2 separate regions of the Homo sapiens genome follow, and region 2 is linked to region 1. Evidence: fine-mapped expression QTL. A gene starts in region 1. The other region holds a variant in brackets. All regions are shown on one strand. Distances are from middle to middle.

Region 1 (2,925 bases):
ACTTCGAATTTGGCAAGCAGCGAGAAGCACATCCAATGGCGGAGCAGCATTTCACCATTTTAGCAACTCATAACAAAACTGAAAGAAAATTAGAATGTTAAGAGTTAGTAACCGGAAAGCTGAAGGGGAATATTTTCCCTTTCCCGGTGTTTTAGGAAACACAAAATCAGGATAGAAAGCTAAAGACAAATATCTTCTTCTAACACCTGCAGCTTTGCTTACATCATTTTCCAGGGCCTTGACTCTTTAATAAGGAGAAACATATTTAGCTGTGTACCCCGAGTATGATTTCAATTTTGTTGGCTTGTACATTTTCCTTCCACCTTCTAACAGGTACCATGTTCTTTGTGCCACAAAGCCTTTTGCACACTAACTCCTACCCATCTTTCAGCCCTCGGCTTGCATCGCTTCCCCAGGGAAGCCTTCCCTCACTGACACTCAGATTGTCAGAGCTGCTCTAATATTAGCTCTCACAGGACACACACTTCTTCCTAGCACTTCTCCAGGTTGTAATCTTACATTTATTGCAGTGATTGCTCTTATTAATGTCTTCCTCCTCCACCAGTCTTGTTAGTTCCATGAGGTCATGGTGGAGTGTGTCTATTTTTCCTTACTTTTTGTCCTCACGGTTTAGCTGGTGACTGGCAATAGTGAATGTCAGTACATATTTTGAAAGAACAGCAAGTAAACGGGAAAGGGAGGAAGCAAGAAGCACTTCGAGGTGCCAGCGAGCACCCTGGCGTCCAAGAGCAGCGCGCGGGACCCGCTGAGCCCAGGGCCCGGGCCGAGCTCCGCCCCTTTCTCCAGGCTCCCCGCCACCGGAGGGAGAGAGGGAGGACCCGTCACAGGTAACGATGCGCCCAGTGAGCGTCCTTTCCTCTGGGGCCAACCAGCGTCTCCGCGCCGCTGCCGCCAACCTCGCGCCGAACTACGCCCTGAGATTTGGGCGGGTAGCGATTGGGGGAAAACAGGCAACCTAAGAGTTATTACCGTTAGCAGCGAAGACTGCGACTAACGTCAACGACGGAGACTGCGTCTGCCTTCGCTTCCGCCTCGTAGCCCCGGGAACCGGAAATCCGTCTGCCCCGGGTCACGTGCTTAGGAGCCATATTGTCGCTAGTGGCCGCTGGGGCTGGGAGGGGTGTGCTAGAGAGGCGCAGCTTCTCTGGGCGTGGTTTTTATCCTGGGGGAAGGATCGGTGGAATGTGAGGGGAGGTGGAGGAGATGGCGGCGACGGCCCGGGAAGATGGCGCCAGCGGTCAAGAGCGAGGTCAGCGGGGCTGCGAGCACTATGACAGAGGATGTCTCCTAAAGGTGACGCCTTCTATGGACTCTTCCCTGACAAGCTTCCGTCAGGTTGGGCTGGGGCGGGCTGGGCAGGTGGTTAGGCTTGGATTTAAGTTTGAGGTTAACCTGATTTTCAGGATACCTTTTCCACCTGGAACTGGGTTCTTCTTGAGGAGAACGTTTTTGGCAAGGCGATAAGCCCCACCTTTCCTACCTGCTTCGTACCTTTAAAGCAAAACCCTTCTTGGGAAGTGATTAGGCTTGCACAGTGGTCTCTGCCAGTGGGCTTATTCGTCTTTTGCTGCCGAAGTAGACTGAGGCAGCCCCGGGCCTGTACTGGGGTTTTCCGTTCAGGTGTGTGATGAAATAATGGAAGTGGAGATAATGGAAATAAGCAAGTGGAGAACCCGAATACGATTTCAGCTCCTGTGGTAAAGTTTTATAGCCTGCCAGCTTCATGTTAAAGGCAGTGCACATGTTCAGACGTAGGAGAAAACGTGTGTCCCAAAAAAGAAGACAATCATGTAATTGCCATTAAATAGGAAATTATGCATAGGAAAGTGCCTAATAAGCATGTATTGTTACTCTGAGAAAACTTCTTAATCTGTATTTTTTTTTAAATTGGCACGTATTCAATTGAAGTTTCCTGATTTTCCTTGCAAGAAACAGTACAAAAATTTTGCTTAGAAAACTTGAGCTTTGGAACCTCAACCGCCCTATCCCCAAATCTTAGCTCTCCTCTTTAATAACTGATTTTAGCTAGCTCCTCTCTACCCCGTATGTAAAATGGAGATGATCGCGCCTGTTTCATAAAAGTGTATGAGGATTATATACTAAAGGGCGTGTATAGTGTTTAACAGGGCGCATTCCCTGAAGTAAATGAGTAGTAAATATATACCACCATGACTGTTACTATCATCGTCAATCTGAGTATTATTATTTTTTGTTCTTTCACTTCACAAGTCAGCCTTGCTGGTCACTGCCTCATTATTAGAAGCAAGTTCAAGTCTCAGGCCTGTACGTGCATCCTAAACTCTTTTCTATAGGTCATGGCTTGACGAACATTGCTCCACTGAACTGGATGAAGCTCCTTAAAAATGTTGGTCATCCACCAAGTGTTGTGTAAGGAAATTGAATGCTATCCTTATGATTCAATTTCTACTGAGATGTATTATTATTCTTTCAAACTTGAGGTCTAAAACGGAATTTAACATCTTGGTGCCCCCCATAAACCACACAATTAGATCTGTGTATCATAGCACTAAGATACTTCGCCCTAGGTGTCAAACAGTTTTTGCCTTCCCCCGCCCCCCCCCCCCCCTTAAATACCAGAGGCCAAGTGAAGTATTTCAAGGAGGATGTGGTCAGCTGGGTCAAATGCAGCTGTTTGAGTAAGATAACTGAGAATTGCCCTTTGGATTTGGCAAGGAAGAGGTCACTGGTGATCTTGACAAGAGGAGTTTTAGTGGAGAGATCAGGATTAGAGTGAATTTAGGAAAGAATGGGAGGAGTGGAATTGAAAATAGCACTTATAGGGTATTCTTGGGGTTTAGCTGTAAAGGGGAGCAAAAAAAAGATGTGGTTGCTGGGAGATCTGGCACCATATTTTTTCCTCTTTAAGAGAGGAAGTATTACAGC
Region 2 (2,925 bases), 32 kb after region 1:
CTTCTCAGCCATACATGGTATTGAGTTTTAGATTAGAATGGGAAAGCCTAGTATTCTGGCTAGATAATTTTTGGTTATATTACACATTTTCTGAACATCTTCAGATACTTCAGCATACGAGGATAAAAACCACGTAGCAAAGCCAAATGAAAATTATTTTTTGTTTTATTTACACTGGAGTGTTTCATAATTCATGTGGATAATTGTTAGGGCAATGAAAAATCACTTTTGGAATACTAACCGATAATCATGTGATTGACTAGAGGCCGAAGTGTGCTATGTTCCATGTAGATAATTTTTGGAAATAATGGCTTCATTAAGATACAATTCACATATTATATAGTTCATTCATTTAAATTGTACAATTTGGTGCTTTTTAAAATATTCATGTAGTTATGCAAACATCACCACAATTTTAGAACATTTTTATCATCCCAAAAAGGAAACACTCATACCCATTAGCAGTCATTCCCTAACGCCCCAGGCCTAGGCAACCACTAATCCACTTTCTCCATTTAGATCATATTTTTTAAATAATTATTTTCCAAATTATAATTTAGAGCAAATTTGGAAATTTTCTGCTTATTATAGTGTGACTATTCAAAAACTAGTGCTTTTCTTGCATAGTAATGTATTGATTTTCAGGTTAACACCTTTGTTATTTTTCAGGTTCTTACTTAGCACTAGAAGAAATTAATTCTTAAACGGCATCTTATTGTTATTGTAGGGATGAGCGAAGAGCCTCTCTGTTTACTCAATTTTAGGAACACTCTTTTTGGAATTTAATTCATTCCTAAGGCAGAGAAGACAGGGAACAGTATACTAAACCTAAAAAATAAGCAAAAATATTATTTGTGTAAAAATTTTGGTTTTATTAATTGAGATACATTTCTGACTGAAAAATAATGAAATCATGTTGTTATTTTGAATTATAAGTATCAGGTATTCATCTGATTATGCCTAGGTTAATTTTCTTGCTTGTACTATTTATACTATTTAATATTTGGAAACTATTTTAAAATAAGCTTTTTTTTTGCTCAAATCTGCCTTTTCATTTTCTGAATTCAGAGCCACCTTAATAGCTTTTTAGAGTTTTCAGTGAAAAAATAAGAAGAAATTTCTACTTTTGGAAATTTTTAGACTTATGTATGTATTTTCACATCTTTAATATGATTTTCAAGGGATTATGAGTAGACAATGCTACTTGTATTTATAAGGTTTAAAATACTTAATTTGAATTAATCTCTTTTCAGATTCTCTGCAATGACTGTAATGGACGATCCACTGTTCAGTTTCATATATTAGGCATGAAATGTAAGATTTGTGAATCCTATAATACTGCTCAAGCTGGAGGACGTAGAATTTCACTGGATCAGCAATGACGAGCCTACACAGTACTGGAGAACTTGGCATTTTCTGATATAGAAAAAGGCTTTCCTTGGTATCGTGTTATCATGTGTCGTCATCTATGCATTAGAGTTGATGTGTTTTGTACTAGTGTCACAGCATAAAATCATATTACAAGTACGTAAGGATTCAGGGTCTCTTGATAGACTTATCATAGCTCTATATTGAATGAAAGCCACTGTGCTTGTGTTTTGATTGGAAATTCCTTTAGTGTCAGTTTTTTGGAAGCCAATGATGTTTGCCACTGATACATTCATAGAAGTGTATTATATTTTCATGAAGCTTTGCTTTAAGTGACACTAC[G/A]CGTGCAGTTCATTTCTAGTTCTTGATAGAACTGCACTTAATTTTCAGTAGTAGTCTTGACTTTTTAAGGGCTGTGTTATATTAAGTTCTCCCTTACTGTTAAAACCTAATTAAATATGCTTTAGAATTTTCTAAGACAGTCCTCTGGATCCTCTAAATGTGAATTTTGATGTAATAACTGCTAATAAAATTATATTGAAACTGTTTTATAGAAAGTTTTTTCCAAAGTTTTCTATGTTTGGCTCAATTAGGGCAGTATCATCAGTTCTATAATGTAAAAGAAATTTTCTTTCTTTTGAGGTATTCCATAAAAGTAGTTGGGAAAATTATTATGTAAAATAATAAGACTCTTCCAAAGCCTTAATAAAAACATCAACATTGAAAACAGTTTTTTTTAGGTTGCCCAAAATTATTTCTTCAAAGAGTCATTCATTCCTTCATTTAGCAAGTATTTATTGAGCAACTGCTATGTGGCAGATATGTTTCTAGATGCTGTAGAGACAACAGTGAACAATAAAGATAAAAGTCCTTGTCCTCACAGCAGTACATTCTATTGTTCATCATATTTGATCAATGTACTCATTTTTCTTTATGCAAGGAGTGGATGTCTTATTGTAAATGAATAGAATATTTCTTCCCTAAGCGTGTGAAAATAGGGGATGGATGAGTGGGAAGGGCATGGGATATTCCTGGCAAGATCTCTGATTTCATAATACTTTTTTGGGCTCATGTAGTGGAATTAAATATACCTCTTACTTCAGGAACAAAGTTAACAAATATGTTTGATGATCCAGCCGACTTTGACACTGTTATCTCCGTAATAGCTTTACCATTAGGCTAGGATGTAAAATGTACATTTATCAGTTGATAAGTACCTATTGAGCACCAGTTGTATTTCCAACTTTGAGCTATTTGAATCTTCTTTGAATAAGGAAGTTAGCCTTTTAACTAGAAAGCCTAAGAGTTCTGGCACATTTATTTCTTCTTTTGTTGAAATTTATTCACCTAGATAAAGGCAGCAGTTTGGGACTCAGATCTTTATTTTATCCCACCTTCTTGTCTTCTGTATTCCACTCTTCTTATGTTCTTTCCCTTCATCTGTTTCCTTGGCCTGGCCAGAGCAGCAGTGCTGATCTTCATTTGGGAAAGGATGTTCCTGGGTATTACCAATTAGTATACAGATAAGTAAAGACTAGTTTTCCAGATCTAATACTT

What was found. PIP is the estimated chance that this variant, and not a neighbour inherited with it, causes the effect.
Region 2: its variant is fine-mapped to the expression of RCHY1 in whole blood (TOPMed, PIP above 0.99).

The regions. Positions count from the first base shown.
Region 1 is chr4:75,512,586-75,515,510 of GRCh38, reverse strand. It overlaps RCHY1 (ring finger and CHY zinc finger domain containing 1), which reads left to right and starts at 1,108. Exons shown (of 9, transcript NM_015436.4): 1 at 1,108-1,314. The coding sequence starts at 1,225. THAP6 (THAP domain containing 6) reads right to left here and starts at 1,038. Exons shown (of 5, transcript NM_144721.6): 1 at 991-1,038; 2 at 1-78. The coding sequence starts at 58. RefSeq lists enhancers at 343-562, 138-1,068, 903-1,382, 1,069-1,999.
Region 2 is chr4:75,480,995-75,483,919 of GRCh38, reverse strand. RCHY1 (ring finger and CHY zinc finger domain containing 1) reads left to right here. Exons shown (of 9, transcript NM_015436.4): 9 at 1,254-2,925. The coding sequence ends at 1,382. Among named protein-coding and RNA genes, the nearest start is that of RCHY1, 32 kb to the left of the region's middle. The variant G/A (reference allele first, on the strand shown) is at 1,711.